Linked DNA regions of Homo sapiens: all the other regions are linked to region 2. The links come from fine-mapping of genetic effects on gene expression. A gene starts in region 2. Each other region holds a variant in brackets. All regions are shown on one strand. Distances are from middle to middle. Region 1 holds the start of TSPAN16-AS1 (TSPAN16 antisense RNA 1). Region 2 holds the start of PLPPR2 (phospholipid phosphatase related 2). Region 3 holds the start of TSPAN16 (tetraspanin 16).

Region 1 (9,058 bases), 28 kb after region 2:
CTGTAATCCCAGCTACTTGGAAAGCTGAGGTATGAGAACCATTTGAACCCGGGAGGCGGAGGTTGCAATGAGCCAAGATCGCGCCATTGCGTTCCAGCCTGGGTGATGGAGTGAGCCTGTATCTCACACACACACAAAAAGAAGATTGGCATACAAAGCAGGACACAGAATTTGATCCCAATTTTTTTTTCTTTTCTTTTGTTTTATTTTTTTTTTTGAGATGGAGTTTCGCTCTTGTTGCCCAGGCTGGAGTGCAGTGGCACAATCTTGGCTCGCTGCAACCTCCGCCTCCCAGGTTCAAGCAATTCTCCTGCCTCAGCCTCCCGAACAGCTGGGATTACAGGCATGTGCCACCACGCCTGGCTACTTTTGTATTTTTAGTAGAGATGGGGTTTCACCATGTTGGTCAGGCTGGTATCAAACTCCTGACCTCAGGTGATCCGCTGCCTCGGCCTCCCAAACTGCTGGGATTACAGGTGTGAGCCACCACGCCTGGCCTGATTCCAATTTTGTAGGAAAAAAAGCCAGACACACATACATGTGCACACACACATCCCCTACAAACCTAACCCCAACAAATGACATATTTATATAGAAAAAGACTAAAGGCTGGGCATGGTGGCTCATGCCTGTAATCCTTGCACTTTGGGAGGTCAAGGCAGAGGATCACTTGAGTCTAGCAGTTAGAGACCAGCATGGGCAACATGGTGAAGCCCCACCCCTATAAAAAATACCAAAAATCGGCTGTGTGTGGTGGCACACCCCTATAGTCCCAGCTACTTGGGAGACTGAGGGGGGCCCAAGAGTCAAGGCCGTAGTGAGTTATGATTATACCACTGCACTCCAGCCTGGGCAACAGAGGGAGACTCTGTCTTAAAAAAAAAAAAAAAAAGATGAATAAAGACTAGAAAGCTAAATAGCAAAACGCCAACAGTAATTGTTTCCAAGTGATGAGATTACAAATTACTTTTATCTCTATCTCCATACATTTCTTTGTGTTTTTGTTTTGAGACAGGGTCTCACTCTGTTGCCCAGGCTGGAGTGCAATGGCATGACCTCAGCTCACTGCAGCCTCAACTTCCCTGGCTTAGGTCATCCTCCCACCTCAGCCTCCCAAGTAGGTGGGACTACGGGTGCATGCCACCACACCTGGCTAATATTTATTTATTTATTTATTTAGAGATGGAGTCTTGCTCTGTTGCCAGGCTGGAGTGCAGTGGCATAATCTCGGCTCACTGCAACCTACACCTCCCGGGTTCAAGCAATTCTTCTGCCTCAGCCTCCTGAGTAGCTGGGACTGCAGGCACGTGCCACCACACAAAGCTAAATTTTGTATTTTTAGTAGAGACGGGGTTTCACCGTATTGGCCCTGGTCTCGAACTCCTGACCTCGTGATCCGCCCACCTCCGTCTCCCAAAGTGCTGGAATTACAGGCGTGAGCCACCACGCCTGGCACCCCCCAACCTTCTTCTTTTTTTTTTTTTTTTTTTTGAGATAATATCTTGTTCTGTCACCCAGCCTGGAGTACAATGGCACAATCTCGGCTCACTGCAACCTCCGCCTCCCAGGTTCAAGTGATCCTCCTGCTTCAGCCTCCTAAGTAGCTGGGATCACAGGTGTGCACCACCATGGCCAGCTAATTTTTGCATTTTTAGTAGAGACGGGGTTTCATCATGTTGGCCAGGCTGGTCTCAAACTCCAGACCTCAAGTGATCCGCTCACCTTGGCCTCCCAAAATGCTGGTATTACAGGCGTGAACCACCATGCCTGGCCTTAATTTTTATATTTTCTTTAGAGACTGGGTCTTGCTATGTTGCCCAGGCTGGTCTCAAACTTGTGAGCTCAGGTACCCACCTGCCTCAGTCTCCCAAAGTACTGGGATTATAGGCTGTCTTAATACTTTTCTGTAGTTTCTAGTTTCTCCAGTAAATTTCTCTATTGAATGACATCCAAAAAATGTATTTTTTTTCCTTTTTAAAATTTTTATTTGTTTTAGAGACAGGGTCTCCCTATGTTACCCAGGCTGGTCTTGAACTCTTGGGTTCAAGTGATTCTCCTGCCTTGGCCTCCTGAGTAGTTGGGATTACAGGCGCATACCACCACGCCTGATTAATATCAGAAAAATAAGCTGGGCACGGTGGTTCATGCCTGTAATCCCAGCACTTTGGGAAGCTGAGGCAGGTGGATCATCTGAGGTCAAGAGTTCGATACCAGCCTGGCCAAAATAGCGAAACCCTGTCTCTACTGAAAATACAAAAATTAGCCTGGCATGGTGGTTCACACCTGCAGTCCCAGCTCCTTGGGAGGCTGAAGCAGGAGAATCGCTTGAACTCGGGAGACGGAGGTTGCAGTGGGCTGAGATCGTGCCGTTACACTCCAGCCTGGGCGACAAGAGCAAAACTCTGTCTCAACAAAAAGAAAAATAAAGAACACAGATGGTATGAGGCAAAGCCACGCGTGGATAAGGAAACACCAGATTTGCCCAGGAAGACAGTGGGATGGCTTTGATATCTCTGGGCTGACAGTAGGAGATCTAAGTTCATGTCCTGCCCCTGCTATTGTTCATTTACCCATTCATTCATTCAACCATTCAGCAGACAGTTTCTAAGCACCCTCTCTGTGTCGGGCACTGGGTACAGCCATGGGCGGAAATCCTGCCTGCCTGGAGCTGGCTTTCTAGTAGCGGAGACAGATAATAAATGGGTAATTACACAGCTAACTCATTATGATTCCATTTTCATAGTTCAGCATGACGCACAGAGAAGACAGGTCCACTTACCCTTGGCCACGTGTAACGTGGCAGGCGTTTGTCTGAATTCCTGGCTTACCTTGGTGATGTGGCAGGTGGGGCTGCATGGAGATTCAGGGACAGCTCCTCTCAGGCAGACCCTCAGGAACCTTAAAAGGATGCAGGAAGCCCAGCGTGGTGGCTCACGCTGGTAAACCCAGCACTTTGGGAGGCCTAGGCGGGGGGATCGCTTTAGGCCAGCAGTTCAAGACCAGCCTGCGCAACATAGCGAGACCCCCACCTCTACAAAAGAAAAAATTGAAAAATTAGCCGGGCATGGTGGGGCACACCTGTAGCCCCAGCTACTCAGGGGGCCAAGGCGGGAGGATCGCTTGAGCCCAGGAGGTTGAGGCTGCAATGAGCCATGTTCATACCACTACACCCCGGCCTGGGCAATAGAGAGAGACCGTTTCTCTTTTAAAAAAAGCAATGGAAAATGTGACTTGATGGGTCTCCTGACCATGCCTTTCTGTGCAGCAGAAATTGGGTGGAAGCTGAGCTATAGCCACCTGTGGGCACTGCCATGGCCGCAGGGCAGCAGAACTCTTCATGTACCCTCCCACCTATACTCTTGCAGCCACTGCCTTGTGACAAAGAGATCTTAGGATTGTCCAGACCATGGCTGCAGCCGCAGGGTTTCGTTTTGTTTTGTTTTTGAGACAGGGTCTTGCTCCATCACCCAGGCTGGTGTGCAGTGGTGTGATCATGGCTCACTGCTGCCTTGACCTCCTGGGCTCAAACCATTCTCCTGCCTTAACCTTCCGAGTAGCTGAGACTGCAGGTGAACGCCACCATGCCCCTCTATTTTTTTTTTTTTAATAGAATCTCGCTCTGTTGCCCAGGCTGGAGTACAGTGGTGTGATCTCAGCTCACTATAACCTCCGCCTCCCAGATTCAAGCAATTCTCCTGCCTCAGCCTCCCGAGTAGCTGGGATTACAGACGCGTGCCACCATGCCCAGCTAATTTTTTGTCTTTTTAGTAGAGATGGGGTTTCACCATGTTGGTCAGGCGGGTCTTGAACTCCTGACCTCAAATGATCCTCCCGCCTCGGCCTCCCAAAGTGCTGGGATTATAGGCATGAGCCTCCTCACCTGGCCGCCCATCTACTTTTTAAAAAAATTTATTGTAGAGATAGGGCCTTGCTATGTTGCCCAGGCTGGTCTTGAACTCCTGGCCTCAAGCGATCCTCCCGCCGTAGCTTCCTTTAGTGCCAGGATTACAGGCATAAGCCCCTGCGCCTGGCCTGCCACAGATTTTTATCATTGGTAGGATCATCATTCCCATTTTACAGGTGAGCAAACTGAGGCTTGGAGTGGCAAAGGCACACAACCAAGGTCCCACAGCAGGATAAAGAGCAGAACTAGGCTTAGAAGCCAGGTTTCTGTGATGCCACAGCTGAGACTCTGCCCTCAGGGGTCTTACGAGTGTCCCCACCTTAACATTCATCCAGGTTTCGAGTTCTTTGAAGCCAGTGCCAAGGAGAACATCAATGTGAAGCAGGTCTTCGAGCGCCTGGTGGATGTCATCTGCGAGAAGATGAACGAGTCCCTGGAACCCAGCTCCAGCTCAGGCAGCAACGGGAAAGGCCCGGCCGTGGGGGATGCTCCAGCCCCCCAGCCCAGCAGCTGCAGCTGCTAGAGATGGCCCCCAACCCCCCACCCACCCCTCTCCTGCCTCGGCAGGGACTGTGATCGAGGCGTGAGCCACAGTGGTTATCTCCAAGCTCAGGGCAATCCCTTCCCTCCTGTCAACTGCTCCCCGACTCCTGCATGGCTCATTCCTTCACAATGTCGCCGTGGCTGCCAGGTTCCTCAGGCAGCCCCGGTGGGAGGCTGCGGACCATGGGGACTCAGCTCTGCATGGCAGGCAGAGGCCCAGGGACACTGACGTGCATGAGCTTGCTGCTTTCCAGGGTGTGTTGAGGGTGGCCATGGGTGACACGTCCCACTCTTTCTGATGGAGGGGCATCCGTGGTGCCTTCTAGCTTAGAACCATTTTCCAGGTCTCTTCTGGGTTGGGCAGGACTGATATTCCCAAGCTGGTGGAAGATGGTTCATCTTCCTCGCACAGTGTGGGTTCTTGGAGTTCATCCAGGGAAGGCGGCGCCTCTTTCTCAGGTCCTGCAGGCTGGTCTCTGAGCCTGCCCCCACGAACTTTCTGGATTCCAAGGTGGGATGGTGATCCCTTTGACCCCTGCAGACCCTCTACTTGCGAAAAGCAGCATTGAAGCAGCCTTTTCCCATTGTAGAAGGGACAGGGAGTCAGATCCCCTCAACCCCCCGGCTTCAGGGACCCCAGAAGTGCCTTCCAAGCTTCCCCCAAGATCCACATCACCCACGACCCTGCCACTGTTTTTGCTGTGTTCACCACATCTCTGATCCTGAAGTGAATTCTGGAACTATGGACCACATTAGACTGGGCAGAGATTCGCCCAACCCCTAGCACTCCGGCTCTGGGCTTTCGGCCAGAAGTTAATTAACCTCAGAGCCAGGAGCCTGGGGCTGGGGCCTCCCTCCCAGGCCCTGTTTAGCTGTTTAGCTGGTTGTGTTTTAAGCAAGTTCTTGCCCAATCATGCATCCTGCTAGAAAAGGAAATGAAGCAACGTTCCCAGCCACCGCAGGCAGTTGTCGGCGACTTTCTGATGTAAGCACCTGGGCTCCGACTTGAGGGGGGCCCTTCAAGACCCAATGTCCATTTCCCAATCCTTGTCATCGGCAGGGCCCAGGGATGTGACAATTTTTGCTAATGGAGGAGTCACTTCTTTTTTTTTTTTTTTCTTTTTGAGATGGTCTGGCTCTGTCACCCAGGCTGGAGTGCAGTGGTGCAATCATAGCTCACCACAGCCTCAAACTAGGGGTCACTTCTAAGGGATGCTGGGGGTTGGGCGGAAGGGGTGAGGAGGTAGGA[T/C]TGAGTAACTTGCTGTCACTGCTTGTACTTTGTAGACAGCCTGAGAGTGGCAGGACCTTATGTGAATGGGGGGGATGGACTGTGATCAGTGCCGGGGAGTCTCTGAAGCTGGGGTCCCCACCTCCAGGGGCTTCTGCTCAGAGGTTACGTGTGCAGTTTGAAGATGTACATCTTGACCTCCGGTTTAGAGGCACTTTCTGCCCATCAGATTCCAAACTCTAGGGGCGCAGCACCTTTTCTTTGCTCCCAAACACCAACCAACACCCCTTCACAGGACCAGCACTGTTAGGATGGCTAAGTGGATGTTTTATGTTCCCACGTCCCTGACTCTGTTTCAGAGGTTGTGTCTGCTCTCCCAGCCCCTGAAGCCAAAATGACTTCCTGCAGCTTTCATGAGCTCAGCCTCTTCCCTGGGGTATGTGTGAGGGGGAAAGCCTGGTTCAAGTTTAGATTTATTTCTAGGGAGCCCTGGTTTCTTCATACCAGAGGCTACCCTTAGAACTTTGGAGTGGGGTATCTTTTTTTCATTTGTTTTTTTGATACAGAGTCTCGCTCTATTGCCCAGGCTGGAGTGCGGTGGCACAATCTCAGCTTACTGCAACCTCCACCTCCAGGGTTCAAGCGATTCTCCTGCCTCAGCCTCCCGAGTAGCTGGCATTACAGGCACCTGCCACCACACCCGGCTAAATTTTGTATTTTTAGTAGAGAAGGGGTTTCACCATGTTGGTGAGGCTTGTCTCAAACTGACTTCAAGTGATCCACTTGCTTCGGCCTCCCAAAGTGCTGGGATTACAGGCGTGAGCCATCACGCCCAGCCGAGGGTATCTTTTATACCAACAAATTAGATGACTGAGGTGTAATGGACAAATCCTATGCACAAAGTGAGGGTATCTGAATATGTGGGCGGGAGTCAAAAATTTTTAGCTACTTTAACACTAAAGTCAAACTAAAGTAGCTTCAAAAAGACTTCTCAAGATGCAGTATGGCCTGCTGAGGTTTTTTTGTTTTTTTTTTTTTTAAGACAGAGAGTCGCTCGTCGCCCAGGCCGCAGTGCAGTAGCATGATCTCAGCTCACTGCAACCTCCACCTCCCGGGTTCAAGCGATTCTCCTGTCTCAGCCTCCTAAGTAGCTGGGACTACAGGCACCTGCCACCACGCCCATCTAAGTTTTGCATTTTTAGTAGCGACGGTTTCACCTTGTTGGCCAGGCTGGTTTTGTTGGCCAATTGTCTCTAAACTGCTGTCAAAAAAAGGAATGGATCAGATTGTCTTGAATAGGGCAGAGCTAACCTGTAATCACCTGTGTGATGAGAAACAGCTTTGACTGCATTTTACTCCTGACCTGGCCTAAGCTTTCTGTTTACATAAGATTTTTCAAGAATTCAACTTCAAGTAGCAGCCGAGAGAGCTGCCTCAGGATTCTCTCAAAAACTGGGAATAATATGGGAACATTTGTTTCTTCTAAAAATAAGGCAAATGTTACATTGAATGATTTGGGGGGTGAGGTTTAATTGGAAATGGTCTCTGGGGACTGAAAACTGATGTTTTTGCAGATTACCTCAGGGAAACGGAGGTTTGTTGAGTTTACAGACACATTAAACCAAAGGCCGTGGGAAAACCCCTCTCCAGCTCCAGGGGATTGGTCAGGACCACCCACTAACCAGTGCCTTCCTTCTTAACATTCACTTTTAGCAGCTTGTGTTTATTTTACATGGGCAGTTTTGATGGGAAATTGCCATGACCACAGGGGTTTGGAGTTCTGCTTTTTTTTTTTCTTCTTCTTTTTCGGGGGACTGGGGGACTCCTCCCAAGATCACATTTTAGCATCTTTCTCTCCTACTCCATTTAGAAAAATAAGTAACAGGTGAAATGTGGTCTCAGTGTTAACGGGATAATTCTGCTACCGGCTCCTCCCTGATGATTCTGAAATACACTACTGAACGAGCTCTGGCTGGTCCTTTCTATCCTGGATGTGGTTCTTCTGTGTAGCAATTCCTTGATGTCCAGTTTGGAAAGATGTACTCTTCTCAACAAGAAAAACTTAAATCCGTCGTGCCCAAATATAGTTGTGCTTTTATTTCCATTAGTGAAGTGCGTTTCTGGGAAAGGGGGTTTGATTTGCAACTAAGCAGATATCAGTCAAGGGCTCTTCAAGACACAGCAGAAACCTCACCGGGCCTCGGGCTGCCTCCCACTGGGTCCCATGGCCACCACCTTGACCTTGGAAAGCTCTGTTATATGGAAGGTAGGGAGGACACTATTTCCCTCAACTACTTCTAGTAAAAAGCTCAGTTCTCTCCCCAGCAGCAAGAGGGCACCTGTGAACACCTGAGTCACAGCGCATTCCTCCTCTGCTTAGAACATTCGATGGCTCCCACCTTACTTGCAGTAAATGCTGAGGTCCTTCCTGTGGCCCCCGGGGCCCTGCATGATCTGATCCATCCCTTCCCTACCCTCATCTCTCCACTGGCCTCCCCACACTTGCTCCCCTCCGGCCACTCTGGCCTACTTGCTGCTATCTGAACATACCAGGCCCCTGCCCCAAGGCCTTTGCCCAGAATGTTCCCCCTGCCTCTGCCTGGATGGCCCTTACCCAAGGTAGTCACAGTTGATATGGTTTGGCTTTGTGTCCCCACCCAAATCTCATCTGGAATTGTAATCCCCATAATCCTCACGTGTCAAGGGAGAGACCAGGTGGAGGTCATTGAATCCTGGGGGCGGTTCCCCCATGCTGTTCTCCTGATAGCAAGTGAGTTCTCACGAGATCTGATGGTTTTATAAGGGATTCTTCCGCCTTCTCTCGGCTCTTCTCCTTCCTGCCACCTTGTGAAGAAGGTATCTGGCTTCCCCTTTGCCTTCTGTTATAATTGTAAATTTCCTGAGGCCTCCCCAGCCATGTTGAACTGTGAGTAAATTAAACCTCTTATGTTTTTTTGGGTATTTTTTTGTTTTTTTTTTTTTGAGACTCAGTCCTACTCTGCCACCCAGCTGGAGTGCAGTGGTGCCATCTTGGCTCACTGCAACCTCCGCCTCCCAGGTTCAAGCAATTCTCCTGCCTCAGCCTCCCGAGTAGCTGGGATTACAGGCACACTCCACTACGCCTGGCTAATTTTTGTGTTTTTAGTAGAGACGGGGTTTCACCACGTTGGCCAGGCTGGTCTCGAACGCCTGACCTCATGATCTGCCCACCTTGGCCTCCCAAAATGCTGGGATTACAGGCGTGAACCACCGTACACGGGCAAACCTCTTTCCTTTATAAATTACCCAGTCTTGGGCAGTTCTTTCCAGCAGTAGGAAAACAGACTAATACAACAAAGCTCCCCTAACTGAACTTCCTCTTTTGGGCTACTGTGCAAATCTCA
Region 2 (10,000 bases):
GTAGGGGTGCTAGCAGCTACCACAGGTGTAACCCTCACTGTGGGCAGGGGGTCGTACCAAGCTTTGTCCATGAATTAATATATTTTACCTTTAGAACAGCCCTAGGAGGCCGGGCGTGGTGGCTCACGCCTGTAATCCCAGCACTTTGGGAGGCTGAGGCAGGAGGATTGCTTGAGGTCAGGAGTTCCAGACCATCCTGGCCAACATGTTGAAATCCCACCTCTACCAAAAAGTACAAAAATTAGCTGGGCATGATGGCACACACCTGTAGTCTCAGCTACTCGGGACGCTGAGGTAGGAGAATTGCTTGAGCCCAGGAGGTGGAGGTGGCAGTAAACCGAGATTATGCCACTGCACTCCAGCCTGGGTGACAGAGTGAGACCCTATCTCAAACACACGTACACACACACACACACACACACACACACACACAGAGAACAGCCCTATGAGTTGGGACTCTGGTGATGTCCATTTTATGAATGAGGAAACTGTGGCTCAGGAGGGTACCTGTGGTGTCCAGCACCCTGCAGTGTGGATGGGGCAGAGAGGGATTGGACCCCGGGGAGTGGCACTTCTGAATCTAAGCTCATAACCATTTCTCAAGAGAAAGGGGACAGCAAGGGAGATCCCAGAGATGGAAAAGTGGGTACAGATAAGGAGACTGAGGTTGGACAGAGACAGAGATAGGCACGCCGTCTCTGGGAGAGGTACGGGGGTCCTCACCTCCACGAAGACAAAGCAGGGGATGATGGAGAAACTCCTCTTCAGATGCGGTCTCCCTCCCGCCATGGTGAAGGCCAGGCCTGCAGAGGTGGGGAGGGAGTGGGAGTCCCAGGGGGTGTGCCTAGGGGAAGGCTCAGGTCACCGGGACCCTGGCTTCATCCCCTGAGTCCTTTGGCCACACCCCTGGCCCTGAAGACCCGGGGAGGCCCTGACTCTGTCCCTTGAACCTTCTGGCCATGCCTCTGCAATCCAGGTCCTGCCCTGTTGGTCCTGACCCTACTGGGGACACCTGCCTCCTCTGACACCACTCCCCAAGAGTCTACGGGGGTCCCTTCCTTTACAGCCTACATGGGAGGCTCTGACCCAATGCCCTTTAGGAGGTGGGCCTTTAGAAGAGACTCCCCAGCCTCATGGGAACCCCTCCCCCATGGCACTTAGAAGGGTCCCCACTAGTTTTTAGGGGACACCATCCTCTTTCCCAAGGGGCCCCCATCCCTACCAGACCCTTCCCCTGAGTCGCTTCCTCCATGGCCTCTGCAGGGGCCCCTCTCTCTGTCCCCATGGGCTGTGGTGTTGGTGTCTGGTTGGGCTGATAGCCAAGCCCTCCTTCTCTGCCAACTGCCTCTCCCTCCTTCCCCCTCTTCCCAGCCGGTCTGCCTCCCAGTTCTCCTCTTCCCTCCCCCAAGGCTACCCCCAGTCCCCAGCGCTTTAGGGCTCAACACAGTCACACCTGCTTGCATCCATTCTCCCAGCCCCATCTCACCTGTGAAAGCGCCCTATGGCTTCCCCCAGGCTGCATCCACGCCTGAAGACTCACAGCCGCTCCTGGCAGCCAGCAGGGCAGGGATGGTCACCCCCATTGTGCAGATGTGGAAACTGAGGCCCAGGCAGGCGAGGGTAGGCACTCTGGGTCCAGCACCCCAACCACGACACTCACTCTGCAGTGTGATATGGGGTGATGGTTGCCAGAGGTCCTAGATACCCAGAGTCACCCATGCTGTCACCCTTAGGAAGCACAACCCAGCCGCAGCCTCCATCCTGGCACCACACACACACACACACACACACACACACAACCATGGCATAGCGTTCACCCATCCCACAGTGAAGACCGAGCACCTGCCGACTTCCAGGCGCTGTGCTGGGCGCCACTTTGCAGTAAACAAGAGGGGCCCCCTTGTTCAGACAGGTGTCCAACACACACAACACATGTCACTGCATACTCACACACAGTGGGCTCATAGCCTGTCAGAGACACCAAACAGATCAAACAAGTCCCCACCCCCACCCCAGGCCAAACAGAGAGAGACATGTCAGGAGACCCTACACACATCACAGTCCCACACAAGCCCCCACACCGCTACAGTCAGGGACACACAGTCAGGCCTGCAACACACTTAAGAGTCACAGAAAAGAGTCACCGCACACAATGGGGGTCACAGAACTCATCACAGCGTCACACCCCCAATTACAAGGCACTCAGCGACAGCCACACACACACTAACAGTCTCTTATTCACACCAACAGTCACAGGGGAGAGACAAGGTGCCATCTACAACCACATGGCCACATCCATGGACCATGACACAGACTCACAATGCCACACAAGAAAGGTGCACAGCGCACGACCACAGCCACACACACATACACACCATCAGAATGAACACACAACAGGAGCCACACAATGACAGTCCTATGCACACAACCACACGAACACCAAGACAGTCACACACAGAGACAGCAGCCACACGGGGGGCCAATGGCAGTCACAGCATAGCCAGACACACACACACAAACCATCAGAGTGACACCCACAACGACAGCCGCACAATGACAGTGACACACACACACACACACCCGCGGACCTCCCGAAACCACACAATCCCAGTCATGCAGCCACACGATGACAGTTACACAACCACACACAGACACACAATGACAACCACACAATCACAGTTACCCACAGCCGCCCTCACCACCGGTGCTGGCTCCTCGGCCCGGGGTCCCCTCCCCCAGCCCGGTCCCCTCCCCCAGCTCGCCGCCTCCCCTCCCCCGCCCCTCCCCGCGCTGGACCCAGAGGGACCCAACCCTCAGGAACCGGAGACCGACACCGGGGGTGGGAAGCCCACGGGAGGGGATGAGGGGCGCCCCCACCCCCTCCTCTCACCGCGTCGAGGCCGCCGCCGCCTGAGCCCCCGCTCCGCCTAGACTGCCCCGGCGCGGCGGGATGGACAGACGGACTGCCAGCCAGGCTGGCAGACGCGAAGACCGAGACGCGGTCGGCCGGGCCTGGCCGCGCCGCGCAGACTCCGAGGTGGAGGGAGGGGCGGGGCCTCCGGGCGTCTCATTTGCATAGCCCCGTGGGGCGGGGCCTCCGTGATCTTGGAGGCGGGGCGTGTTAGCATCGATTGTAGGAAGGAACCAAGAATGGAAGTAGAGAGGGAGGACCCTGGGGTGGGCGGGGCTCCGAGGGTAATAGGAGGGAGGGGCTTCAGAGTATGTCCCTGGGCCGCGCCTCTCCCTCTCTGGGCCTCAGTTTCCCCATTCGCCAGGGCCCCCCAGAAAGGAAGGCTCTGTGGCCAGTGTGGAAGTCTGTCTGGCTGCTCGTGTCTGGACAGAATGACTCCTTGCCTTGTCATATATTAAATCTGGCTTCAGATGTCCCCTGATTCCAAGCCCACACATCCCGAATGACCCCTGGGGTCTCTACACCCCTCCCCCCCAACAATGAGGGGTAAACTAGGAGGGCAGGGGGATTCCTAGGCACAGGAAGCAGCAAGACTAACAGTCGGGGCTAGAGGAGGGTCTGGGCTAGTTTATTTTCTCTCTGGAGGGGTCTTCAGGGAGAGCAGTCCCGGCTGCTCAAGCTGTGGAGAGAGAGGGTGGGTCAGGGCCTGGCCAGGTCCAGGGGACTCCGGGGCTGCAGGTCAGGGACCGCATGCCCAGATCAGGATCTGGGCCTGTTCTGAGGGTCTAGACTGTGGGAGTCAAGGGCAGGTCAGGAGGGAAATGGGTGGAGGGGGGGACTGGGGAGGATCTGCACCGGGTGGGAAGGAGCGGCCGCTCTTGCTGAAAGGTGGCTGGGAGAGGTCCTGGTCACAGTCGGAGTCAGAGTCCCAGGAGGGGAGTGGAGGGCTCAGGCACTGGTGCCCCTTGTGGCCTGCAGGAGGGACAGGTTCCCTGAATGTGACCCTCAAGTAACCCCCAAATATAGGCCCTGTGTCCCTTCATAGTATACCTCATTGATACTTAAACCATGACCCCCAATTCCCTTGAATGTGATCCAGTGTGACACCAAATTATGACTTCAATGACCCTTGCATTTTACCCAATTGACACTTTTTTTTTTAGAGATGGGGTCTCGCTCTGTTGCCCAGACTGGAGTGCAGTGGCACGATTATGGCTCACTGCAGCCTCAACCTCGCAGGCTCAAGCGATCCTCCTGTCTCAGCCTCCTGAGTAGCTGAGACTACAGGTGTGCTCAGCCACAGGTGCACCATCACCCAGCTAGTTTTTAAATTTTTTGGAGAGATGGGGTCTCACTGTGTTGCCCAGGCTGGTCTCAAACTCCTAGACTCAAGTAATCCTCCCACCTCAGCCTCCCAAAATATTAGGATTACAGGCATGAGCCACTGTGTGGAGTCCCCATGGACTCATATAAGATCCAAGTGACTCTGAATGTGACCATGAATGACTCCTGGATGAAACCTCCAGTGACTCCTTAATGTGACCCCAGAACACTACTTAATGTGACCATAGAATAACACCCATCAGATGTGACTCCCAAATAGGCTCTCTGAACATAGCCTCCCTGTGAAGCTAGACAATGACCTCCCACCCCTGAGCAATTCTCAGCCTCCCTCACCTCTTAGGCTCGAGGCCTTGGGACAGGCCCCCGAGCACAAAGTGAGGCTGTCTATGGAGTTCTGCAGCACGTGCACAGCAGACCTGCAAGAAGACAAGGAGCTGGGGGCGCTGGGAGACTCCACACTGCTCAGGGTGTAGACAGCAGTACAGCTAAGGTTGGGGGCCGTGGTGGGGTGAGTCCTAGGGGGTGAGGGAAGTCTGGACTCAGGTGGGCTCCAGGTTCTGGTGGTCACTGCCAGATCCCGTTGGGGGAACGGGTTCAGAGGAGGGTCAGGGGTCAGACTGCAGGCTGGGCATCACCATATATCACTCAGTTCCTTCTGGAGGTCATCCTTCCAGCAGCCACTGGCTCCCTGCGGTATCTCTTCAGTCTCCGGACAGGCGGCTGTCTCATGACCCTGCTGCTTCATCTTGGTCAGGATCTGGGGTGGGGAGGGATGAGAGAACAGCAGTCATAATAATAATGACAATAGTGCCAGGCGCGGTGGCTCACACCTGTAATCCCAGCACTTTGGGAGGCCGAGGCGGGCAGATCACGAGGTCAGGAGATTGAGACCATCCTGGCTAACACAGTGAAACCGCATCTCTACTAAAAATACAAAAAGTTAGCCGGGCGTGGTGGCGGGCGCCTGTTGTCCCAGCTACTCGAGAGGCTGAGGCAGGAGAATTGCTTGAACCCAGGAGGCAGAGGTTGCAGTGAGTTGAGATCGCGCCATTGCACTCCAGCCTGGGCAACAAGAGGGAAACTCCGTCTCAAAAAAGAAAACAAAATAAATAATAATAATGATAATAGTAAAAGGTGACTGTTATATAGCACTTGTTATATGCCAGACTGCATTCAAGTGCACAGTACTCAGCTAATACAGACACCTGATCAGGTAGGGAGGAGTGTTTTTTTTTGTTTTGTTTTTTGTTTTTGTTTTTGGTGTTTGTTTCTTTTTTGAGACAGGGTCTCAGTCTGTCGCCCAGGCTAGAGTGCAATGGTACTATCAGGGCTCAACGCACCCTGAACCTCCAAGGCTCAAGTGATCCCCCTACCTCAGCCTTCTGAGTAGCTAAGTCTACAGGCATGTGCCACCACACCCTCTTGTTTTTTTTGTTTTTTGTAGAGACAGGGTTTTGCCATGTTGCCTAGGCTGGTCTTGAACTTCTGGCCTCAAGCAATCCAACCACCTCAGCCTCCCAAAGTGCTGAGATAACAGGCATGCCACAGCACCCAACAGGATGAGTTTTCTTTTTCTTTTTCTTTTTTCTTTTTTTTTTTTAAGATGGGAGTTTTGCTCTTGTCGCCCAGGGTGGAGTGCAATGGCACGATTTCGGCTCGCTGTAACCTCTGCCTCCTAGGTTCAAGCCATTCTCCATCCTCAGTCTCCTGAGTAGCTGGGATTACAGGTGCCTGCCACCACACCCAGCTAATTTTTGTATTTTTAGTATAGACGGGGTTTCATCATGTTGGCCAGGCTGGTCTCGAACTTCTGATCCACCCACCTCAGCCTCCCAAAGTGCTGGGATTACAGGCGTGAGCCACCGCGCCCAGCCAAGATGAGTTATTATTACATCCATTATACAGATGAGGAAACTGAGGCTCAGAGAGGTCAAGTGACTTGCCCACAGTCACACAGCAGTGAGTGGCAGAGCTGAGATTTGAACCCAGGCTCCAATCTCATGGTGGAGGCTGGCCAAAATCCCCATCCCTCCCTCTCCCACTCCTCCCCAGGGTCCCCATCTCCTCCACTCACTTTGCGGCATTTCACCTGCGTTTTCTGCATTTTCTGAATGTTCACCAAGTTCTCTGAGATCTCATCCTCCTGCGCTTCTGTGGAGGGAGGGGGCTCAGGCGGACAAAGGCTGAAGAAGGACCCCCTCCCCACACACCGGCTGTGGGCTCCAGGAACTCACGGAGCTTCTGATAGATGAAGGTCACCTCCTCCCGCACCAGTTCCAGCTCCTCCCACAGGAACTTCTTGCTGAGGGGACAGTGCAGCCTAGACCTGCACTCCCTGCCTGGCCCCTGACCTCCCATGCCCCTATCTGTGCCTCCACCCATCCCCGCAAGCTCTGTCCCCTCCCCACACTTCCCTGCCCTTTTCCCCTCCCCTTCTACAATCCCCCTACCCTCATCCCCCTCCTCTCCTTCTGATCCCCAGCCTCCCATTCTCTCAGTCTCTCCCACCCCACTCAGCCTCCTATCACCTGGCCTCCACCTCCCCACCTCCTGTCCCCCGACTTTCTATACCCCCAGTCTCCTGTCCTCTCAGTCTTCCCTGCCATCCCCCTTTCTGATCCCCTGGCCTCCTTTTCCATCCCACCTCCAGCTTTCTGTCTTCCCTGCCTTCTGGCCTCTCAGTTTCCCACTCCCCCGCCCCCACCAGCCACCTGTCTCCCCTGAGCCTCTCATCCCCTCCTCATTTTTTTTTTTTTAGACAGAGTCTCGCTCTGCCGCCCAGGCGCCCAGGCGCCCAGGCTGGAGTGCAGTGGTGCGATCTCAGCTCACTGCAACCTCTGCCTCCTGGGTTCCAGTGATTCTCCTGCTTCAGCTTCCCTAGTAGCTGGGATTACAGGCACCCGCCGCCATGCCTGACTAATTCTTGTATTTTTAGTAGAGATGGGGTTTCACCATGTTGGCCAGGCTGGTCTCGAACTCCTGACCTCAGGTGATCCGCCCATCTCGGCTTCCCAAAGTGCTGGGATTACAGGCATGAGCCACCACACCCGGCCTCATTCCCTCTTCTTGTCCCTCAGGCTTTCCACCATCCCTCAGTCCCCCTCCCCCAGGCATCTGCCATTTCCCCCATCCTGCCTCCATTCCCCAGTTCTGGGTCTCCCTTCCCTCCTGTGGACTCCAAGCTGCCCTCCCGCCATCCCCGACCTGTCCCGGATCTCCTGGGCCAGCAGCTGCAGGCAGCGAGTGGTGCGGGCCCGCTGCATCTCCTCACTGTCACGCAGGGTCTTCTCCAGCCCCTGAAGGCCTTGGGTCAGGGCCCCATACAGCTCCTGCCGGCCCTGCTCCATGCCCCACTTGTGCTCCTCCTTCTCTCCCTGGCGGCCTGTGGGGCTCAGCACCTCTGCAGAGAGTGTGGGACCTTGACTGAGCCCTGATCCCACCCTGAACCCAGCTTGTCCTAATCTTGACCCAGAACCCAGACTCTCCCAATTTCCCTCACCCTGGCCTGGCCCAGCTGATCCCAACAGGACCAGCTTCCAGCCTGACTTTTTTTCTTTTGAGATGAAGTCTTGCTTTGTTGCCCAGGCTGGAGTGCAGTGGCGTGATCTCGGCTCACTGCAACCTCTGCCTCCCAGAAAGCAATTCTCCTTTCTCAGCCTCCTGAGTGGCTGGGACTACAGGTGCATACCACCACGCCTGGCTAATTTTTGTATTGTTAGTAGAGATGGGGTTTCACCATATTGGCCAGGCTGGTCTCGAACTCCTGACCTCAGGTGATCCACCTGCCTCAGCCTCCCAAAGTGCTGGGATTACAGCCATGAGTGACAGCACCTGGCTTTTTTTTTTTTTTTTTTTAAGTAGATATGGGGTTTCACCATGTTGTCCAGGCTGGTCTCAAACTCCTGACCTCAAGTGATCCAACCTCTTTGGCCTCCCCAAATGCTGGGATTACAGGCGTGAGCCACCACGCCTGGCCTAGCCTGACCTTGATCTCTGGTCAGTCCTCACCTTCAAGCTGCTGAATCTTGATTTGCTGCAAGCAGCTCTCCTTCTCCAACATGGTCACTGAGTGGTTCAGGAACTCGAAAGCCTGGGGGAAAGAGGTCAGCCTTGGGGTGGGAGGAAGGAGGGGAGGGCAAGGAGAAACAGAGGTTGCTGGGGGCAGGGCCAAGGTGGTTCACCTTGGTCTGGGCCTGTAACTGGCTCTTGAGTGACTCAAGTTCACATCGCAGGAGCTTCTGGGAGTCGGGAATCATCACAATGGTCTTGGCTGTGGGCAGAGAAGAGGGTGAGCCAGGGCTGTAAGGGGTGGGGTCTGGGGCAAGGGCAGGGCAGAGGTCAGCAAAGGCTCAGAGTAGCAGTAGGGACAGGGGATAAGATATAGAACAGGGGCCCACTCAGCCTTGGGCAGGAGTGAATGGGTGACCATGGCAGGGGGACAGCTGATGCTGGGGCAGAGGGTAGAGGTAGAAACCAGCAGGTCTTCCCCACACAGTTTTGTTGGAAAGGAGATTTCTCACCTTTGACTTTGGAAGAGCTGGTCTCCAAGGGCTTCTAAGGAAGAGAGATGAGATGGGAGTAGAAATTTGTCCCTGAGCTGCCTCCTTGCTCACCTCAACCCAGTTTTGAGGGCTGGACAAGAGTTGGATCTCCTCAGTTCTAGGTGTCCCAAACCGTAAGTGCAGGCAAAGCTGCACTCCAGGCATATTCATGCACCTCCCCCTTGGGCTACATATGCTCAGAAGTGCACTTATGTGGCTGAGAGACGATCACAGCCAAATCCCCATGGAAGACACACAACCACACTCTTTCCTTCCATTCATTCCTTCATCCATTCATTTAAGACTTGCTTAGCCAGGGCCTGCTGAGTGCCAGGTGCTGTTCTAGGTGCTGAAGAAACACAGTGGGTGCATTCATGGGAGTCTCTCTGCCTTACAGCCCCTTCCCTAAGCCCCACAGCAGTAGATTGCAGTGGTTTTCTGCATTGAAGGGGTTTCCCGGGTGGGGGTGACCTTAGCTACGTTGTGATGCCTCTTCAAAATGTCCTGGTCATTACAGCACTGCTTCTGCAGGTCTGGACTGGGGGAGGGGGCAGCCTCATGTGGCGAAGGCCCTGAGCCCCACCCTGGCCTGCAGTCTGCAGTCCTCACTGTGTCCCCAGAAGCAGGGCATCCCAAGGTCTCTGGCTCTGGAGTCCTGGACCAGTGAGCTGTACGCTCCAGAGCCTTGTCCGAGGAAGAGCCTAGGGGTGAGGGCTTCCTTGAGGGACAGTGCAGGGCACTCCTCACATTCCCAGCCCCTCCCAGTGTCCCCAGCCCTATGGGAGCCCCCTAACTAACCCCAGTACTTGTCACACTTCATGTTAGCAGGCAAACACATGCTGGAGGGTGAGGGAGGTGAGTAGAGGCAGGACACAGAGTAGTCAGGGTCCCGGGGTAGGCCGGCCAAAAGAGGGTCGCTGTGAGTAGGGAAGCAGGGGCTGCTTTGAGATAAGTCCCCATGTCCCCAGTGCCCCCAGACCCTCCCTGACATGCCAGAGAGGCCTCAGCCCTAAACTCAAGGCTTCTCAGTTATGGTAGGAGCCAAAGCTGGATAAAAGATGATCCCAAGGCCAGACGCGGCCAGCAATGGTGGCTCACGCCTGTAATCCTAGCACTTTGGGAGGCCAAGGCGGGAGGATCACTTGAGGTCAGGAGTTCGAGACCAGCGTGGCCAATATGGTGAAACCCCGTCTCTACTAAAAAT
Region 3 (10,367 bases), 60 kb after region 2:
AGGCAGGAGAATCGCTTGAACCTGGGAGGCAGAGGTTGCAGTGAACCAAGATTGTGCCACTGCACTCCAGCCTGGGCGACAGAGTGAAACCCTGTCCCCGCAAAAAAAAAAAAAATAGGTGACACCAAGCAAAGTTGTTTGCAACACGCACAATAAAAGATTTGTGTGTGTGGGGAGGCAGTTCTGGGGTCTGTGTGCAGATCCAACTTACAAACAAGAGCGTGCCTCTGCTCTCTTTAGTCGCTCCATACCACCCGGCACAGCCAAGCAGTACCGTGATGCATCCCATCACCAGGCACAGGTTGCCAACGTGAAGGAGGTATGCGGAGGACAGCCCGAGGACATTCGTCAGAGAGGCCCCTCCACATTTACCACCAATGCCCAGGCCAACTAGGATGATGCCAGACACCTTTAGAACAGAAACCAGAAAGGAAGAAAAGTAATCTGTTAGTTGTATACAAATAGAACTGGGTGAGTGCGGTGGCTCATGCCTGTAATCCCAGCACTTTGGGAGGCCAAGGCCAAGACTTGAGCCCAGGAGTTCAAGACCAGCTTGGTAAGACCTCATCTGTACCCTCTCCCCAACAAAAAAAAAATAGCCAGTAGTAGTGCGTGCCTGTAGTCTCAGCTACTCAGGTGTCTGCAGTGGGAGGATCACTTTAGCTCATGAGGTTGAGACTGCAGTGAGCTATGACTGTGCCACTGTACTCCAGCCTGGATGACAGATCAAGACCTTGTCTCAAAAAATAAAATAGGCCAGCCACAGTGGCTCACACCTGTAATCCCAGCACTTTGGGAGGCCGAAGCAGGTGGATCACCTGAGGTCAGGAGTTCGAGACCAGCCTGGCCAACATGGCGAAACCCTGTCTCTACTAAAAATACAAAAATTGGCCGGGCGTGGTGGTGGGCACCTGTAATCCCAGCTACTCAGGAGGCTGAGGCAGAAGAATCGCTTAAACCTGGGAGGTGGAGGTTGCAGTGAGCTGAGATCATGCCACTGCACTCCAGCCTGGGTGACAGAGCAAGACTCCGTCTCAAAATAAAATAAAATAAAATAAAATAAAATAATGTCATAGGACAGGGATTAGCAATTTTTTTTTTCTGAAAAACCCAGATGTTGTGGCCTCTGCAGGACTTAAGGTGTCTGTTGAAACTACGCAGTTCTATTGGTGTAGCCCAAAAGCAGCTGTTCACAATCTCCAAATAAGTGAGCACGGCCATGTTCCAATAACACTTTATTTTGTATTATTATTTTTTAAATAGAGATGGGGATCTCACTATAGCTGGTCTCGAGCTCCTGGCTCAATGGATCTGCCCACCTCGGCCTCCCAAAGTGCTGGGATTACAGGCATGAGTCACCACAGCCGGCCTTAATTCTCTTTAAAATGTTACAAGTGAAGAGGAGGAGTGATATTTCATTTCCTTCTCTTTCCTGGCAGCTTTTCCTTAGACTATGCTACAATGAAGACAATTACTTCTTTTTATGTTTTTATTCTTTTATTTTTTTATTGAGACAGAGTCTCGCTATGTTGCCCAGGCTGGAGTGCAGTGACACAATCTCGGCTCACTGCCAACCTCTGCCGCCCAGGTTCAAGCAATTCACATGCCTCAGCCTCCTGAGTAGCTGGGATTATAGGCACGTGCCACCACGCCCATCTAATTTTTTTGTATTTTTAGTAGAGATGGGGTTTCCCCATATTGACCAAGGCTGGTCTTGAACTCCTGACCTCGTGATCCACCCGCCTTGGCCTCCCAAAGCGTTGGGATTACAGGCATGAGCCAGCGCCCCCGGCCTGACAATTCCTTAGCAATGTACATTTCGGGTTACTTTTACGGTAAGGAAAAAAATGTGACAAATTTAAAAGATCAAGAAAATAACCCTTTCTCCTGGCCTTCCCAAACAACTTGGTCGGCTACAGGATTTGACTTAGAGCCAAGCTCTTCCATCACCCACCTGGGCTCCCCCAGATCACACTCATCTGTGCTGGATTTCACCAGCTCTCGGTTGATGGAGGTCCCCACGCTCCCTGCTCCTCCTCCTCCGTCTGCCCTACATCCCTCCTGCTTCTCCAGGGAACCACAGATCTCGATGCCAATTTGGATCAACTTATTTCTGTCTTTCAGGGAGCTGACTGTGGAGGAAGGGCTGCAACAAACCAGGGGCCTGGATTGTGACATACTTACAGCCACGAAGCCATTGAGTAAAGATAACAGTTTCTTCAAGGAAGAATACGGAGTGTGGATTTCAGCCATGCTGAACAGACTGGGGCACCCTGAACATTTAAGTTAACATCTTCCTGAACCTCTGGGCTACTGTTTCCCAAGATGATAGGGATCTGAGGAAGGGGCGCCAATGCTGACTTGCTCTGCCCCTCTGTGTCCTGGCTGCCTGATGGTTGTCCAAGGCGGCCCAGCAGCTGCCCCCTGCCCTGGTCATAAGCCTTTTATCACATCACAATTGGGTTCTGGAGCAAGGCTCATGGTCCAGGGAAATCAGGTGCCCCAAACTGCCCCCTGTTGGCTCCTCATCCTTCAAACAGGTCACAGCAGGGAAAGAGAACAGGCATGGTATGCTACCCTGGTACCCTCCAGATGCCACCAGGACCCTGTGGGCATAGTGCCCAGAGCTAACCACTTGCACAGTTGACATCTCCTAGTAGACTGGGGGATCCAAGCGGGGGAGGGGGGAACTTGGGCTGTCCTATTAACAGCTGTGACCCCTGCCAGGCGCAGTGGCTCACACCTGTAGTCAAAGCATGTTGGGAGGCGGAGACGGGCGAATCACCTGAGGTCAGGAGTTTGAGACCTACTAACAATACAAACAATACAAAAATTACCTGGGTGTGGTGGCACACGCCTATAATCCCAGCTACTTGGGAGGCTGGGGCAGGAGAATCACTTGAACCCAGGAGGTGGAGGTTGCAGTGATCTGAGGTCGTGCCATTCCACTCCAGCCTGGTTGACGGAGTGAGACTCTGTCTCAAACAAAACAAAACAAAAACAAAAACAGCTGTGTCCCCAAAGCCTGGCACTGCAGTACTTAAGAAACCCGCGGAGAATGAATGAATGGATCCAGAGGCTCTGTGATGCAGAAATCTAGCTACAAGCCACCGGGCCTCCCAAGCCCAAGCCCATACTTGGCCCATCCTTCATACAGGGCTCAGAGAGGCCAAGGGAACTGCCTGAGGCCACACAGGAAGCAAGACCAGGCTTTGAAGCCCCAAGAGTAACATGAGGGCAGGAACCTGTAAGGCAGAGAGTCCTGGAACTGTGAGCCATTGGTCACTGGGTTTTTTTCTTTTGAGACAGGATCTTGCTCCATTGCCCAGGCTGGAGTGCAGTGGTGTGATCATGGCTTACTGCAGCCACGACCTCCCTGGCTCAAGTGATCCTCCCACCTTAGCCTCCCAAGTAGCAGGTCATTGGGCTTTTCTCCATGGTGATAGATGTAGTTAGCATTTCAGGACCAAAAACCTTCTGTATGTCAGCACTGAAGACCTCCAGGCCTAGATCCTGCAGTCTGTAGCCCACTTTGCCCCCATACCTCCCCACCCTAACCATAGCAGCTTCACATTGCCCCACCCCGATCCCCTCTCTGTCCAGCCCTGGGCTGGGGTGTGTCTGGGTCCAGGTCCTGCATGGATTGGGGGAAGGCGGATGGTTCAAATGGGAGAAAATACCTTACACTTTAATTAATTTAATGAATGTCTGTCAAATCGCCTGCTTCTTGGAACATGTAGAACTAAGCAAGATGTTCACAGAGGAGTGCTGTCTCCTCCTGGACCACGGGTGCTGTTCACAGCCAGGAGTGTGTCCTTCCACACCTTTATTTAAGAGGTCATTTGAAGCCAGGCGCGGTGGCTCACGCCAGTAATCCCAGCACTTTGGGAGGCCGAGGTGGGTAGATCACGAGGTCAGGAGATCGAGACCATCCTGGCTAATGCAGTGAAACCCTGTCTCTACTAAAAATACAAAAAATTAGCCGGTTGTGGTGGCGGGTGCCTGCAGTCCCAGCTACTCGGGAGGCTGAGGCAGGAGAATCTCTTGAACCCGGGAGGCGGAGGTTGCAGTGAGCCGAGACCACATCACTGCACTCCAGCCCGGGAGACAGAGGGAGACTCCTCCGTTTCAGGAAAAAAAAAAAAAAAAAAAAAAGGTCATTTGAAGTAAGGAACCTCAGAACCAGGGGCTGAGGGCCTGGAAATGGGGGCACAAAAGAGGGTGATAAATGGGCATGCAAGAGAGCATTGGAAAATGTAGGGGGCAAAGGAGGTCTGGGAAATGTGGACTCAAGGGAAAGCAGGAAAATGGGGGTGCAAAGGAGGGTGCAGAGAAGGGGGACGCAAAGATGCGAGATGGAAACTTGGCTGCAAATGAGCAGTGGGAAAACGGGCTTAAAGGACGGTGGGAAAATGAGGCTCAGATACAAGAGAGCTGGGTGAGTAGCAGACGGCGCTGTAGACGTGGGAGCAGCTCCTGGAAGGAACTGGCCGGAAAGGAATCTGGGCCGGCTGCACGCAGCCCCGCCCCTCGACCGCCCCAGCCCCTCTACCCTCCCAGCTTCTCTGCAAAGCCGCATCTACAGCCTCGCGCGTCTCCTGGCGGCGGCCCGTGGAAGCGCGGCCCTACGTGCCGGGGCTGGGCCAGGACTCTCCCTGCCAAACACGTCCAAATGTGCCCGGGTGCCCCAGGGACCCCGCCCAGCCGGTCA[G/A]CGTCAGGAAATGAAGCAAGAATAACTTCCCGTGCCCCAGATTCCTACATCACACACCCACGGAACTTTGCAGGCATCCGACGAATTGCAAATGCAAGATACTTGCTTTTTTTTTTTTTTTTTTTTTTTGTAGAGACGCGGTCTCGCTATGTTGCCTGGGCTGACCTCTAAGTCCTAGGTTCAAGCCATCCTCCTGCCTCGGCCTCCTAAAATGCTGGGATTACAGGGATGAGCCACCGCGCCCGGCCAGGACGTTTAATATCATTGTCAAAATCATAGAAGGGCCACTCCAATACACCCTTATGGTGTGTTGAGACATTTATTTCTCCACATGCTTGGTCTCCTTTTTTATTTTTAGGGGATTAAAATTGTTTAATTTTTAATTATGTGGGCACATAGTAGGTGTACATATTTATGGGGATGGGAGATATTTTTTAAAAAGCACAATTAACCAGCCGGGCGCGGTGGCTCACGCCTGTAATGCCAGCACTTTGGGAGACCGAGACGGGCGGATCACAAGGTCAGGAGATCGAGACCATCCTGGCTAACACGGTGAAACCCCGTCTCCACTAAAAAAAATACAAAAAAAAATAGCTGGGCGTGGTGGCGGGCGCCTGTAGTCCCAGCTACTCGGGAGGCTGAGGCAGAAGAATGGTGTGAACCCGGGAGGTGGAGCTTGCAGTGAGCCGAGATCGCGCCACTGCCCTCCAGCCTGGGCGACAGAGCGAGATTCCGTCTCAAAAAAAAAAAAAAAAAAAAAAAATCACAACCAAAAAATGAAATGTGTTGAATACAATCACACACAGAATATTTATGTCAACGACCCATATTAGTCAACAAACTCTCCTCTTTTTTTTTTTTTTTTTTAATTTTCAGACGGAGTCTTTCTCTGTTGCCCAGGCTGGAGTGCAGTGGTGCGATTTCGGCTCACTGCAACCTCTGCCTCCCAGGCTCAAGCAATTCTCCTGCCTCAGGATCCTGAGTAGCTGGGATTATAGGCGCAACGCCACCACGCCCGGCTAATTTTTGTATTTTTAGTAGAGATGGGGTTTCACCACGTTGGCCAGGCTGGTCTCAAACTCCTGATCTCAAGTGATCCACCCCCCTCGGCCTCCCAAAGTGCTGGAATTACAGGCGTGAGCCACCGTGCCTGGCCTGAACTCCTCTTCTTAAATTCATGTGTTTGTTGTCAAGGGCAACAATTGGGTGTTTGGGAGCACTGAACAACAAATAGTGAATGAATGAGACCTGAGCTTGCGCCCACCCTTCAAGGTCAGAGAGGAGCGCGGCAGTAGGTTCGCCTGCTCACTTGTTCATGTAAACTTTGCGGCAGAAATGTATTTGTTTACGCCTCACAAAACCTAGATCCATCCTTGACAAAGGGGCATTTTATGGTTTCAGGTATTTTAATAGCCATCGTTGGGGAAGGAGGCAAATCAGAATCCACCATCCAAAAAAAAAGTCTGGGACACACAAAAGAAAGGTGTCTGTCCTTGCAGAGGCTGGTCCACACCTTTGGCATCAGTCACTTGTTCTAGGAGTTCCCAGGTTGTGCACCTCAGCCCTCACTGGGGACAAGCACAGAAGTGTCACCAAGTTTCAGCATCAGGGGCTGACGTCATTGTGGCAGGAGAGGAGCATGATGGTAATCATTGCTACCAAATGAAAAAAAAACAAACAGCATTTCCACCATTAGGGATTTTTTTGTTTGGCTGGTTGTTTTTTAAAATTGCATTTGTTTCCCCATGTTCACATTCTGCCTTAGGGTTAACACTTTGTGCTCTGTATGGTGGGTTGGGAGGCACTGAGGAGTGATCAGAAGACCCCTGTCAGGCCAGGCACAGTGGTTCACACCTGTAATCCCAGCACTTTGGGAGGCCGAGGCGGGTGGATCACCTGAGGTCAGGAGTTCAAGACCAGCCTTGGCCAACATGGGGAAGCCCCGTCTCTACTAAAACTACAAAATTAGCTGGATGCGGTTAATTACAGGTGGGCACCTGTAATCCCAGCTACTCAGGAGGCTGAGGCAGAAGAATTGCTTGAGCTGGGGAGATGGAGGTTGCAGTGAGCCGAGACCGCACCACTGCACTCCAGCCTGGGCGACAAAGCGAGACTCTGTCTCAAAAAAATAAAATAAAATAAGAAGACCCCTGTCCTACAGGGACACTCACTGCTTTCCCAGTTCCTCTCTCTTGCTACATAAAGAAAGATCTGCAATTTCTACCCCTTCAGCTACCTTAGCTTCTGGCTGGAAAAGAGGGAAGTGAAATTAAGGAGAACCAGGAGATGGGTTTTTGTTTGTTTGTTTGTTTTTTGAGACAGGGTCTCGCTTTGTCTCCCAGGCTGGAAGTACAGTAGTGTGATCTCAGCTCCCTGCAACCTCACCCTCCTGGGCTCAAGCGATCCTCTCGCTTTGGCCTTTAGAGTAGCTGGGACCAATGGCACGTGCCACCACGCCCGGCTAATTTTTTTATTTTTTGTGGAGACAGGGGTCTCGCTATGTTTCCCAGATTGGTCTCGAACTCCTGGGCTCAAGCAATCCTCCTGACTTAGCCTCTCAAAGCGCTGGGATTACAGGTATGAGCCACCACACCCAGCCAAGATCCTTGATAATATTAAAAATATTTAGTATATAAGGTATACCCAGGCAGTGATGAGAAGGGAGGGTTTCAGGGGTATCAACCTTGAAGGGTTAGGAGGACTGGAGGGTCCTGATGAGAGTTCAGGAAGCAGCGAGTGGCCCCAGACCAGTGCATGCAGGTGACACATCTCGAGGGGGCTTCTGTTCTTGTTAGCATGGGGGATCGGGTTCTAATTCCCTCTGTTGTCTGGGCAGCTGGTCCCAGGGTGGCCAAGACTGTTCCCATCCCATATTCCTCAAGTATCTCACTTAAACACATTGAAAAGGTTGGCCAGGTGCAGTGGCTCACGCTTGTAATCTCAGCACTTTGGGAGGCCAAGGCAGGCGGATCACTTGAGGTCAGGAGTTTGACACCAGCCTGGCCAACATGGTGAAACCCCGTCTCTACCAAAAATGCAAAAATTAGCCGGGCATGGTGGTGCATGCCTGTAATCTCAGCTACTCAGGAGGCTGAGGCAGGAGAATCGCTTGAACCCGGGAGGCGGAGGTTGCGTTGAGCCGAGGTCTTGCCACTGCACACGCCAGCCTCGGCAACACAGTGAGACTCTGTCTCAAAAAAAAAAAAAAAAGACCTCATAAATAGCTTTTGGAGATTTTATTACAGGCGGACCTGTAACAACCGCAAATGGACTTTTAAAACCTTGTGGGGAATGTTTCTCCTTCTAGGAATTCCTACTACAGATTTATTCAAATGCACATAGGCCAAGAGCTGGCAGATTTTTCTGGAAAGAGCCAGAAAGTAAATATTTTCAGCTTTGCGGACCATACCGTCTCTGTTGGGACTCTGCTATTGCAGCCATAGAAAATATGTAAATGGACAATATGTAAATATATGTAAATGAACAAGTGTGACTCTGTCAAAATAAAATGTTATTTATAATATGAGATGGTTTTGTTATTTACAAAAATGGGTGGCAGAATGTAGTTTTGCTAATGCCTGCTCTTAAGCCTCGCTTGACTTGTGAATGATTGGAAACAACAACTTAAGTGCCCTTTGTTTTTGTTTTTTTGTTTTTTTTTTAGACGAAGTCTCACTCTGTTGCCCAGGCCGAGGGCAGTGGTGCAATCTCAGCTCATTGCAACCTTCATTTCCTGGGTTCAAGCAATTCTCCTGCCTCGGCCTCCCCAGTAGCTGGGACTACAGGCATGCCCCACTATGCCCAGCTAATTTTTGTATTTTTGGTAGAGACAGGGTTTCACCATGTTGGCCAGACTGGTCTCGATCTCCTGACCTCAGGTGATCCACCTGCCTCGGCCTCCCAAAGTGCTGGGATTACAGCCGTGAGCCATCGTGCCCGGCCTTAAATGCCCTTTGAAAGTATTAGTAGCTGATTAAGTATAAGATTGTCCAACTAGAGGAAAAGATGCTCAAAAGCTGAGAAAATGAATGCAGAAATCTTTGTTGCTTTTTTGCAGACTGGATCTCACTTTGTTGCTCAGGCTGGAGTGCAGTGATGTGATCATAGTTCATTGTAGCTTCAAACTCCAGGGCTCAAGTGATCCTCCCGCCTCAGCCTCCTGAGTAGCTGAGACTACAGGCACACACTACCGCACCTGCCTTTTTTTTTTTTTTTTCCATTTTTGGTAGAGACAGGCTCTAGCAATGGTCTTGAACTCCTGGACTCAAGTGATCTGGCTGCCTCAGCCTCCCAAAATCCTGGGATTACAGGCATGAGCCACCACACCTGCTCAAATTCTTAACTAAAAGAATTGACAACGGGAGCCAGGCGCGGTGGCTCATGCCTATAATCCCAGCACTTTGGGAGGCCAAGGCTGGCAGATCACTTGAGGTCAGGAGTTTGGAGCCTGGCCAACATGGTGAAACCCCGTCTCTACTAAAAATACAAAAATTAGCTGTATGTGGTGGCAGGCGCCTGTAATCCTGGCTACTTGGGAGGCTGAGGCAGGAGAATCATGTGAACCCGGGAGGCGGAGTTTGCAGTGAGCCGAGATCACGCCACTGCACTCCAGCCTGGGCGACAGAGCGAACTCTGTCTCGAAAAAAAAAAAAGACAAATATTGCATGATTCCACTCATTTGAGGTCCCTAGAGTCATCAGATTCATAAAGACAGAAAACAGAATGGTGGGTACCAGGGAATGGAGAGGAGCGTGGGGAGTGAGTGTTTCATGGGGATAGAGTTTCAGTTTGGAAAGATGAGAAAGTTCTGGAGACGGATGGTGGTGATGGCTGCACAGCGATGTGAATGTGCTTAATGCTGCTGAACTGTACTTTTCTTTTTTTTTTTGAGACAGAGTCTTGCTCTGTTGCCAAGGCTGGAGTGCAGTGGCGTGATCTTGCGATCTCAGCTCCCTGCAACCTCCATCTACTGGGTTCGAGCAACTCTCCTGCCTCAGCCTCCTGAGTACCTGGGACTACAGGAGCGTGCCACCATGCCCGGCTAATTTTTGTAATTTTAGTAGAGACGGGGTTTCACCATGTTGCCCAGGCTGGTCTCAAACTCCCGACCTCAAGTGATCCGCCCACCTCAGCCTCCTAAAGTGCTGGGATTACAGGTGTGAGCCACCACACCCGGCCTGAACTGTACACTTAAAATGGTTAAAATGACAAAATTTTAAGTTATATATATTTTGCCACAGTAGAAAAGAAATAAATGTTGTAAAAGGAACAGGACTACAAGGCCTCCTGGTGGGAATAGAGGGAAATGACTCGGCCCGGTACCTGCTAATGTTCTCGCAGTTCCTGTAGAACTTCATGTCCAGCTCTGGTTACCGTGAGCACCACAGTGGGTTAAGTCATGTCACCACAAAATTCATATCCATCTGGAGCCTCAGATGAGACCCTATCTGAAAACAGGGTCTTTGCAGATGTCATTGGTTAAACATCTTGAGATGAAGTCAGCCTAGATTTAGGTCAGGTCCTAAATCCAATATCTGGTCAATATCTGGTGTCTTTATAAGACATAGGAGAGGGGTTAGGGGTGGTGGCTCATGCCTGTAATCCCAGCACTTTGGGAGGGCAAGACCAGAGGAGACAGGAGGCTTGAGGCCAGGAG

The links. PIP is the estimated chance that this variant, and not a neighbour inherited with it, causes the effect.
Region 1: its variant is fine-mapped to the expression of PLPPR2 in blood mononuclear cells (TOPMed, PIP 0.97).
Region 3: its variant is fine-mapped to the expression of PLPPR2 in whole blood (TOPMed, PIP above 0.99).

What each region holds. Positions count from the first base shown.
Region 1 is chr19:11,320,767-11,329,824 of GRCh38, reverse strand. It overlaps RAB3D (RAB3D, member RAS oncogene family), which reads left to right. Exons shown (of 5, transcript NM_004283.4): 5 at 4,240-7,757. The coding sequence ends at 4,427. It overlaps TSPAN16-AS1 (TSPAN16 antisense RNA 1), which reads left to right and starts at 8,500. Exons shown (of 3, transcript NR_187778.1): 1 at 8,500-8,601. It also overlaps a transcript of TSPAN16 not described here. RefSeq lists an enhancer at 5,368-5,577. The variant T/C (reference allele first, on the strand shown) is at 5,697.
Region 2 is chr19:11,348,463-11,358,462 of GRCh38, reverse strand. It overlaps PLPPR2 (phospholipid phosphatase related 2), which reads right to left and starts at 3,031. Exons shown (of 10, transcript NM_001393892.1): 1 at 2,891-3,031; 2 at 1,487-1,661; 3 at 724-803. The coding sequence starts at 789. It overlaps CCDC159 (coiled-coil domain containing 159), which reads right to left. Exons shown (of 11, transcript NM_001080503.3): 2 at 8,776-8,809; 3 at 8,437-8,525; 4 at 8,264-8,345; 5 at 7,460-7,655; 6 at 6,490-6,557; 7 at 6,330-6,406; 8 at 4,891-5,012; 9 at 4,589-4,671; 10 at 3,767-3,883; 11 at 3,519-3,590. The coding sequence ends at 3,586. RefSeq lists enhancers at 1,178-2,119, 7,493-7,993 and a silencer at 2,762-3,211.
Region 3 is chr19:11,288,184-11,298,550 of GRCh38, reverse strand. TSPAN16 (tetraspanin 16) reads right to left here and starts at 2,391. Exons shown (of 7, transcript NM_001282509.2): 1 at 2,185-2,391; 2 at 212-409. The coding sequence starts at 2,253. RefSeq lists an enhancer at 1-358. The variant G/A (reference allele first, on the strand shown) is at 4,712.